Linked DNA regions of Homo sapiens: region 1 is linked to region 2. The links come from fine-mapping of genetic effects on gene expression. Tissue or cell type: blood mononuclear cells. Region 2 holds a variant in brackets; the other region holds the start of a gene. All regions are shown on one strand. Distances are between the middles of the regions.

Evidence for each region. PIP is the estimated chance that this variant, and not a neighbour inherited with it, causes the effect.
Region 1: SLITRK4 starts here. The variant in region 2 is fine-mapped to the expression of SLITRK4 in blood mononuclear cells (TOPMed, PIP 0.92).

The regions. Positions count from the first base shown.
Region 1 is chrX:143,633,296-143,638,916 of GRCh38, reverse strand. SLITRK4 (SLIT and NTRK like family member 4) reads left to right here and starts at 2,816. Exons shown (of 2, transcript NM_001184749.3): 1 at 2,816-3,182.
Region 2 is chrX:143,578,379-143,583,999 of GRCh38, reverse strand. No RefSeq gene overlaps it. Among named protein-coding and RNA genes, the nearest start is that of SLITRK4, 55 kb to the left of the region's middle. The variant G/A (reference allele first, on the strand shown) is at 3,418.

The DNA.
Region 1 (5,621 bases), 55 kb before region 2:
AAATAAATAAATAAAAATGAAAGAGAAATAGCAAGTTTGTAACTGTTAAAATGCCAGAATATAAATAAATCTTCAATATTAAAATACACTGAATCATCTGTGATACCTGGATACGAAAATTAAGGCTGATTTGATTTTGAGCAGCAGCCTAAGACAAGGCAAGATAAATGAGGAATACAGTGAAAGTGAAAGACCGCTGACTAGGGCCAAGACTTGGCATTATAATCACTTTCGGTTGGTAGTGTTTTAATGACTTAATTCCAAACTGCCTTCGGAACGGAGGGTATACAGGATCTTGTTGAAATTCTTAGTGCAGTTGTTTTTTTCCCTGATGGAGGGAGACACAGTATATCAGTGTAGACCTACGATTCTGGTTGTACTCCTAAAAAGTCAAGATGAAATAAGGTAAAACATTTGGAGGAAGACCGTGAGAGTATTGCAAAACTCACAATATTTGCATGCTTACATTTTAGGAAGAACATCAATTTTGTTTTTCTTTCAATGGCCATAAATAGTGCTGGAGTTTTCTTAACACTTTTATTTATGTATATATTCACTTCCTTTGTTAAGCTAGCAATTCTGTGTCATTTCCTACTGTTCTATTGGGATGTCACCTGTAGTTCTAGGGGACGGAAAAGGGACTGTGGGACTAAAGGATTGGGTTAATTACTTTGAAAGCAAAATAAGCATAAAACATGGAAGTTGTTACTTCTGTTTTATTTTATGAGTGTCCACTTTATCTTTTTAAGTAGCAAAACATTTTATTTTAAAGCATTCATTTAAAAAAGTTGAATATTAATCACAGATAAGTTCTTAGGAATATTATGAATTGTAATTTATCGATGATCTAGCTACAGTGGCTTTCAGATTTGTCTCCATATCCATATGAAAAATAACATTTCACAGTTATTGCAGTTAAATATAGCCAAGTCTCAGAACAGTTTCTAAAGTTGAATAAAGATAGGCATTTAAATCATCTGATATTTACTGTCCAAATCTGGCCTTTTCAGTTATCACATTACTTAGAATTTTCAGGTAAACTTTTTTTGCTCATTCTATTGACTCTTGTTAACATTTGTAGTAAAAGACAAACATTTCACCTATCTGGATAAAATATATTCAGCTTCCTGAATTGTTAGCATTTAGAATAAATGCCAACTTGTTTTGATACCCATTACTACTTTCAAACTGCATTACACAATAAAATGCAAATGTGAGTTATTAATTAGCAGGATCTGTTTTGTCCAAGTGTGCAAGAGTAGAGGGATTTTTCAACATTCTGCAGCTGTTACCTATGAAGGAAACATCATTCACTTTGCTAAAAGGAGCTGCACAATTACATACGCTGTTATAGACAAATATTTTAGTGTTTCCTTAATGCTATTTCATAATGGATTTCACATTGAATAAGATAAATTTTACCAATGCTGCCCAATTTCTGTCTCTAGGTTGTTTGTAAAAGAGAGGATGATTACAGTTTTCAAGGCAATGTGGAGTGAAGGTAGAGAAAGAGTTCTTCATGAACGACACAATATTTAGCAAGGTCATAAAGAAATATGCCCATACACGCATATCTATTTAAGTATTCATTTACATATTGTACGTGCATCTCTGTATACATGTTGTGCCCGGTGAACATTTGTGTGAATATAACCTGACGGAAGTCCCATAAAATGACAAAAAATGAAAAACAATGAAACATGTATATGAATGACTACTATAGATGATACAGAAGGTAGACCATTATTCACAAATAATGTAATAAATCCTTTGCCCATCAGATGTTTCTACCTAGATTTGGGGCCTTTAAACATCAACCAATTATGGTAAATGTTTAACTGTAGGAGTTCAGGCAGACAGCCAAATTCTGGTTTCAAAGCTGTTGCTAGTTTTAGCTTAAAGATTTTTTTTTTCATTTTTAAGCAAGAACATTTCTGGATACCGGTTGTGCTCTATTGTGGCTAGAGCCGCTGGGATTTGAATAAGTAAATTGGGCAACACACTGGTCCTGAAGAAATGGGCCTGGCAGTATTACCTGAATGTGGCAAATAATAGGCTACCAAGAGTCCTAGGGAAATACTTCCCATTTATAACTTAGCTCTACTTACCTAAAGCTAGTTTATTCCCACAGACACGAAGAGAGAGAGAGTTGTTTTTCTTAGCCAAGCTCCTACAAAAAACAGCAAGGTTGGGGGATGGGAGCACATCCAATGTTTATGCCTTTTGTTTAGGAAAGCCAGGTATCTGAAATACATACATGATAGCCAACTCCTCTCTGCTCCCCTCCCCCAGGTTTATTTATTTTCTTAACAAGCTTATTAACGAAATTATCAATTTGCATGAAACTGGTTTGAACATTGGCCCTTCCTCAGAATATTTCTTATCTCTTGTGGAAGCACTAACAAAAAGGGTAGAAGAAGGGGCCTAGACAATCCACACGTTGGATTTGCAGCCACTGGATATTTCAGATTCAGCTGCTAAAGCCTCTTTGGTATACACAATGAGGGGCGACTGAAGTGACTTTTCTTAGTCCATTTCCTCTCCTTCTCCCCGTCTCCCGAAGGTACTCCGTGGGTCCCTTCCCTTTCTCTCTTCACAGTCCCTCCTGAGCAGTCCCAAAGCTTCAAACCTTGTTCTCCAACCCCCTTTCCCTAATGTCTCCCAACTACCACCCCCTTCCCCAGTCAAACTCCCCTCCCGGTCACCACCAAAGCCCGGAGAAGTGGAATGCACACAATGCCTCCCTTATAGGGCTTGAGCTGGGAACTGGGCATGCTCAGTAGCCAAAGTAGTTTTTTTTTTTTTTTTTCTTTTGGTCGCAAGTGCGGCATCTCTCCCAGTCCCACGCCTCTCTTTCCTCAACCCCTATCCCCTATCCCCTATCCCCACCCCCAGCTCCAAGATCATCCGGCTTAACCCATTCTGCACCAAAGGCCCACGGAGTTCTAAGGTGCGGATAATTAACCCGTCTCCTTCTAACCCGGCTAAATAGTCTCACTTTAGGCTAAAGCCTCACACTTTCGCCTTAAAGCCCCTGGCCCCTTACGCGCAGACAGGTAGGGGGAGTGCGAATACTACTGGATCCTAGGAAATTGGTTCCCAAGAAGGCTCCTTCCAGGATCGACCGCCACGGAGAAGTATTCCAGGAGCCCTCCGTTCTGCGGGGTGACAATTAGCCAAAGGTACCGTACCCGTGATACAAAATCCAAGTATGATTGTTGCATTTGAATGTCATTGTTGTTGACTCATTCCCCTCCATCCTGTAATTATTCAATTCCGCGTAGACTCGACGACCCTATCGATCTCCCTCGGCCCCCCTCCCCCAGGCTCTCCAGTGTTTCTTTGGCTTTTCCTGGCTTCTTGGTTGCTCTCTCAAAGGAATGCCCCGTGTGTGTGTGTGTGTGTGTGTGTGTGTGTGTGTGTGTGTGTGTGTGTTCCTTCGTTATTAGGGGACTGGAAGAGAAGAAAAGGGCTCGAGTGTGTGTGTATGTGGTGGGGGGGATGGAGGCGAGTGCGCCCTTGTTAGAGGACTGGGGTCTCCACGCCTGAGGAAAGGGGTCGCTCCTCCCTAGGGAATGTTTTAGGCAAAAAGAGGGGGCGGATGCCGGGAGGAAAGCGCGCTGTCTTTCTGGGTGTGTGGGTAGAAGAGGAATCAAATGGGCATGTCTGGATGGGGGACGGGGGTAGGAGCTCAGGAATGTGAGGGGGTCAAAGTGGTCGAGTGTCGGGAGGAAGGACTGCTTGTGTGCGGGGTGGGGGGGGGTGGTGGAGAGCGGGGGCGGGGATTCAGCGCGTGTATGTAAAGGTGCAGCCCGTGTGCTAGGCGCTGGGTGCGCGCGCGGTGTCTGCTCGGGTGCGCGCGCGCGCCGCTGCCCGCCTGCCCGCCGGCCCGCCTGCTCGCCTGCTGGGGCTGCTCCGTGGGTTTGACGGGCGAGCGGGCGCGGAGGAGCTCTGTCCGGAATCACATAGATACCATCGTGGAAACAGCAGCGCAGGTCACGGCGCCGCGGGCCCTGCACCAGACGCTGGGCTCTAGAGGTGGGTGAATTTTCAGCGGGGGCTGCACAAGCTGCACCGACACGCGTGCTGCCTCTTCCCCGCTCAGCTCAGTAGCGCGTGTGCGTGCGTGTGTGTGTGTGAGAGAGAGACAGAGAGAGAGAGAGAGATCTCGCGCGCGCGCACGCGAGCCGAGGGGGCAGGTAGCTTATTATTTTTAGTTTGGGTCCTGTTGGTTTGGGGCCGGTTGAGTGGCCAAAGTGGCCGAGGTGGCTAATCCTGCCCTCCACCTCCCACTTGCCTGCCTACGACGCGGTCTCATGCCGCTGAGGACCGGAAAGGATCCGGGTGTCCTTGGCATCGCTGCCCGCCCCCCCCCCCACCATACCCCAAGCGGCCAGGGCGGCGGGGCAAGTTGTACAGGTCTCGGGTGGCTCCGGCTGTCGGGCCGCTGGGCTGGGTTGGGCTTTATTTTTGCACCCCACTCGCAGCCACTTTCCGCAGACGTGGATCTGAGGCTCGGGGCAGTGGCCCGCGGGTTGGTCGGAGATTGCTAGCGCTCGGCAAGACTAGGAATACCAGAGGAAGAGCCGGTGGGTAACTCTAAAAGCTCTGCAAAGCCAGGCGAGCGCTGCCAGCGCGACTTTGCAAGGGGCCTAAATGTTGAGCTGATTTCTGGCATGGTGAGAGCAGGATTTTTGTAGCTGGCCAGGGAGGGAGAACAGGCAAGGGGGAGCCTGGGCCGCCGCTCGCAGCCACAAAACCACAGGGTCACTCTGCCCGTGGCAAGCAGGTCAGTGACTCCCTAGTGCCAACGTCTTCGAGGCGGCCTGATCTGGCCTCTCTTCCTCCTCACCCACCGCACGCCTGGGTCTAGAGAGGTCCACTGAAACTCCGGCAGCTGCCCCTTGTGGGACGGGAGCGCGCGGAGAAATGTGTGAGCGGCGGGACTGAAGGCCCCCGCGACATCCCGCGCGGTACCCCGCCTCCGCTACACGGACCGCCAGGCTGCTGCTTGGGCCCCTGACGCGGAGGGGGCTGAGCGGCCGGCTCCGGGAACAGGGATGCGGCAAAACATTGCGGTACGCGCTAGCAGCCCCTCCAGCCTCCTCGCCGCCCGCCCGAGGTAGCGCACCCGGGCGGCAATGGCCGGGTCTCTCCGCGAACCTCTTCCACCTCCATCCGAGCCTTAGGCGGGCCAGCGGGGTTTCCCGAGGGAGCTCTCGGGGAGCCACCTCGGCCCACCGCCCTGAAGCCCATCAGTGTTCTGCCCCCCTCAGGCCGCTTCTCTCCTCCCAGTCGCGGAGTGCCAGGCGCTGCACTCCGGTGGATGCAGGATTTGTTTTTGGTCGGGCTAGGTTTGTTCAGTCCTGGCTGGTCGTGAGAGCCAAGGGTCTTTCAGGGCACCGAGAGGAAGACGGACAGCTCCCAGCAGCCACAGAGAAGGCTCTTGGTACCCAGCTGGTACTTTGTGGGCTTTTTCTTTTCTTTTTTGCGTTTTTCCCTTGATGTTTAAATGTGCATGTTTCAGTGGTACCACCGGAGTGTGAGGCTTTATTCGCATACATTCAGTGCTCCCTTTACCCTCTTTGTAGCTCCCTTCTCCGAGTTCTTTTTCTTCCTTT
Region 2 (5,621 bases):
TTCTAACTGGCTTCTAACTAGTGTAACTAGTCTGCTAACTGGCTTCTACTCTTGCCTTTCTACAAACTACTCTCTATATAGCAAAGTGATTCTGTTAAAAAGTAAGTCAGACTATGTCACTCCTCTGTTCCAAACCATCCAAGGGAACCGCCCTCATTCAGAGAAAGAAAACAAAGTCTTTATACCAGCTTTTAAAGATTTACCTAATCCAGTCCTTTGTTTCTCTGACCTCATCTTCTATACCTCCTTCTCTTGCTCTCTTTCTTCAAGTCACACTCACCTCCTTGTTATTCGTTGAACTTGAAGGTATTAGGCATGCTACTACCTTACGATATTGTTATTTTTGCTATTTTCTCTACCTGGAATATTGTTCCCACAAATAGTCACATGTCCCACTCCCTTTCTTTCAGGTCTTAATTCAAATATCACCTTCTCAGAGAGACCTTCGCTGATGACTTTATATTAAAAGCATCCTGTCACTTTCTAACCCTATTATGCTGCTTTATATTCTTCGTAGCATTTATCATCAACTGAAATATTACATGTTTATTTGTTTATTGTCTTTCCCGCCTAACTAGAATATAAGTTTATGGAGATAGGATTGCCACTGTTTTGCTTACTGATATATCCTCAATACCTAGAATTCTCCCTGGCATATAGGAGATGCTCACTAAGTACTAGGTCAATGCATGAAACGGACTTTCTTTTCAGTCTACAGCTCTGTTCATAGATTCAAATACCTTCGACGGCACTTTGAAAACAATTCATTTTTCTCGTTAAACCATTTTAGTATTTGTTGAGCTAGGCGCTGAAGCTGCAATAAGAAAAAATAAGGTATTTCTTGCTCTCATAGAGTTAGATCAGTTTCTCACTTTCTTCTTCCCGGTTTCCTCCCCTTGCCACCACTCACACTGAAATGCAGTCCTTCTGTGTTATACACGTTAATACAATGCTATTACTCATTATGTGGCCAGCCAAGTTAAAACCAGAGTGGGTAATTTTATCTCCTTTTTCCCTATACCTTCAAATCCAGTCACTTACCCTGTCCAATCAGTTCTACCTAGTATATCTCTAAGATTTATCATTTCCATTTCACTTCTACTGGCAAATAGATTCCACTTTCTCCAGTCTCACCACGACCTTCTTAGGCTCTCATAATAATCTTCTACTTAAAAACTAGTTCAATAAATTTTCCTGCCTTCTTGCCTGTTCCCCTTCCCTCCAATCTATTTTCTACATTCCAGCCAGGGTGCTCTTTCTCAAATGCAAATACGACCAGTCTCTCCTCTGCTAACTACCCTTTGATGGTTCTCCATTGCTCACAGGACAAAATTCAAATATCTTAAAATGGTGTTTAAGACCTTAAATGATTAGGCACCTACTTACTTCTCTAGCACTATATTTTATTAGTTTTTAAGTCCAGCTCACATATGACTGTCTTTAAGCATCTTCCCAGATCTTCTTCTATTCCATTTACACCACTGGCACAACCTGATCACACTACATTAGAATGAGTAGTGTGCCCAGGAGACTGGCAGTCTTTTCAACTGGAGTGTCAGCTCTAGATACTCACTATGCAATTTCAAATACCTCCTCTGCTGAAATTGTGTTCTCTCCCTTCCCTGACCTCATTCTGTGTTTTCCCTCCTTTCTCTTAACACCTTTTATTCCAGCTAGTGCTGTACTGCTCTCCCCACTACAGACTGAAAGCTCCTGGAGGGCAGGACTGTGTGCCTCCTGCCATAGTCAGGTTTCCAACCTGTGTACCACTGGTCCTGGTGGTTTGCTCAGAGTAGTAGGTACTCAGTCAGTACTTGTCAAATGGGCAGATTGTGCCTATAAATATTTGTACTCATATTGCATTTCTGTCTTTTCCTTTTGATGATATAGTTTCATCATTTACAAGATGCTGTTATGATATTTATGTCTATTAGCCTTTCTGCTAAATAATTGCTTGGCGCTCCCTGTTTTTCTAAATTTGGTAAAAATATCATAAAAAAGCATTTGGTAAATTTCTCACAGAAAGCCAAACACTTTTATGATGTGAGAGACTTGATTTGTTGTATTTATATCAAGTCAATATTGGTTTAATCTTAAATTCACCATTCACCATCTTTTTTGTTTCTCGTTATCAAAACTCATTTTTTATGACTAATTTAATCATTGACTGAACTCACTCAACAGTTGCCCATAGTTACTAAAAGATACAAAATGATACTGTTTATAAGCATTTAGGTCAAAAATGTTCAAAAGAAAAATCAACTAAACTGATACTTTTAATTAGTATTTTGAGGGTTGAGGATTTTTAAAAATTTGTTTTTCACTGAAACTGCTTTGGTAAAAATCAGTACAAAAACAATTGATTTTTTAATTGTCTGGTTTGAAGAGACATGTTGGAGTAACAGAAACAGTCACAACCAAATGCAGCTTCTTCTGGTGGTACACTTCGTTCCATGATGTGGATCAGTTCTAAATATCATTCCAACTATTCTTAGATTCAAGTTATGATACTGTTTTGTTCTTTATATTTGGCTCTGTTTGTAACTCAACAAGTGTCTTGGGTAAGTCCCATGAGTAATAGAAACTGAGAGTAAGCTAGATCAGAAATACTGGATATGGACGATCATTATAAAATGCACATGTTGACTTCTCAAATTATGTCAAGTGACAAGGCTCTTTTTGACACATTAAAGTGATCTGCTCTCTTCAATACTTAATTTATTACTAATGAGGGACTGCAATTGCTTCAAATTAAGTAGCCTACACTTATCATAAGATCTGGCACATTTCTACTTCTGTTTTTAAAAGAATATTTGAAATTAAAAATGTAGAAAATTAGATGCATAAAAATGCATTGTCTAATCAATAACCATAATCATTACCAGCTGTCAAAATGTATCTTAAAATGTTATGAGCTAAATTATGCTGTAAAGACATGCATAATTTTTTATAGAGATTTAGCTGTATTTGTTGACCCATTGATCTCACTCCAGTACAGCATGAACCAAGGAAATAAAAGGGGAACAGAACATAATGGAAGAAAGAACACTTATCCAGGAGGCAAGAAACTCAGCTTAACCATTTATTGGCTGTCTGAATTTGGGCAAGTCACTCTCCACTGTATGTTTCCATTTTCCCACCTGTAACATGAGATGGTTGGACCTGAGCAAAGGTTTCTGACTGCCTGGTAGCCCATGCTGATTCCATGATTCAGCCCATGCTGAAAATTCAATTCAGTTCCGTTCAAGTCAGTTCAATCCAACAATCTTGAGGGACAGCTATTGAAGCAGAAGTTAAAAAGAGAAAAACAAGTTTTCCTATACTTGGCTGACTCACTCCAAGGCCAGCAATAGGCAGGGCCCTGGCAAAGTCTCAATAACACTATCTGGAAAGCCAGAGCCCAAAGGAATGAGCTCC[G/A]GAGACTCTCCCAACAAACCCCTCCCCCTCCCTGGAGCAAGGATAAGAAAAACAAATTCCTTTACTATCTCCTCTTCCCCCTTACCATTACTCAGTGTCTCAAGTTTTGTAAGTTCCTGTTTTCCCTTCCATGCAGCTGTAAGGTCACAAGCTATGCTTAGGTTACAAAACCTGTCACAGTTTGATTAACTGCCTTTGTTCTGCTTCTGTAAGCCTGCCTGCCCGCCTCACAGGTTTTGTGCCCTCAGTTTCCTGCCACTGCATTAAAACTAGCCAATTCCCTTTCAGAAGTGTATATAAAAGTCAAGCCCTGTGTTTGTTCAGGGCTCAGCCTTTGGATGTGAATCTGCTGTGCCAGTAGCCACCTAAATAAAATCCTCCTGTTCCACCCATTGGTCTCTCTGGTCTTCTGATTCCCACAACACTACAGCACCATATTATAACATAATACTGCCAAATGTAATATAATATAATATGAACATGATAAAAGTTTTTAAAATCAGATAAGAATTTGACTCAACTTACAATCTATATGATCATAAAGAAGCCAATTCAAGGGAGGTAGAGGAATATGGTGGAATAGAAAGCTTCACTGATAGTTCCCCCAGCAAGGACATCAGATTAACAGCTATCTACTCAGAAAACACACCTTTATAAGAACCAAAAATAAGGTGAGCACTCAGTACCTGGTTTTAGCTTCATATCACTGAAAGAGGCACCAAAAAGGTAGAAAAAACAGCCTTGAATTGCTGATGCCACCCCTCCTCAATCTCTGGCAGTGGAATCCTGGTACAGAGAGTATCTCTGGGCACTGGGGGAGGGAGAACACAGCAATTGTGAAGCATTGAACTCAGTGCTGCTCTGTTAGAGCAGAAAAGAAAAACCAGACCAAACTCAGCTGATGCCTGCCCACAGAGGGAGCATTCAAATCAGCCTTAGCCAGAGGGGAATTTCCAATCCCAGTGGTTCAAACTTGAGTGCCTGCAAACCTTGCCACCCAGGGCCAAAGTGCTCTTAGTCTCTAACTAAACTTGAAAGGCATTCTAGCCCATAAGCACTGCAACTCTTAGGTGAGTTCAAGGGCTTAACTAGGCCTAGAGATAATGGATTAGAAGGCCACATGACATACTGTGACACCAGCTTTGGCAGGCAAAATGTGCTGGCATCACCCCTCCCCTAATCCCAGGCTGCACAGCTCACAGCTCCAAAAAAGACCCTTTTCTTCCTCTTGAGGAGAGTAGAGAGAAGAGTGGGGAGGATCGTTTCTTGCACCTGAAATACCAGCTTAGCCACAGCAGGATATGGCACCAGTCAGAGTCAAGAGGCTCCCATTCCAGGCCCTATCAGCCAGATGATATTTATAGATATACCCTGGGCCAGAAGAGAACCTATTTGAAGAAAGGGATCCAGTCCTGCTAGCATGGGCTCTGAATAACCAGCAGTAATATCCAGGTGCTATGCTACATCAAGGGTTTTGGTGAGCCTCTGAGACTTGCTGGCTTCAAGTACCAACATCACCACAGGGGTGTAGAGCAGCAAGTCAAGACTGTTTACTCTTGAATGACATTTCTGGACCTGCCCTGTGACAGAGGGGAGTGCACTGCCCTGAAGGATGAGTCCCAGGACAGACAGCACTCACCACAAGCTGACTTAAGAGACCTTGAGACTTAAGGGAAAATCAGTGGTAGTCTGGCAGTACTCCTTGTGGCCAGGGGTGGCTCCTCTGCCTTTGGAAAAGGGAGGGAAGAGTGGGAAGGACCAAAGCAAATATGGACAAATGGGATCACGTCAAGTTAAAAAGCTTCTGCACAAAAGTTACAATCAACAAAGTGAAGAGACAACCCACAGAATGGAAGAAAATATTGGCAACTACCCTTCTGACAAGGAATTAATAACGAGAATATATAAGGAGATTAAACAGCACTATAGAAAAAAATCTAATAATCTGATCAAAAGATGGACAAAATATTTGAATAGATATTTCTCAAAAGAAGTCATACAAATGGCAAACAGACATATGAAAATGTGCTCAACATTAGCATCAGAGAAATGCAAATATAAACTACAATGAGATATCATTTCACCCCAAATGTCTTGGATATGGCTTATATCCATAAAACAGGCAATAATAAATGCTAGCAAGTATGTGGAGAAAAGGGAACTCTTGGACACTGTAGGTGGTAATGTAAATTAGTATAACAACT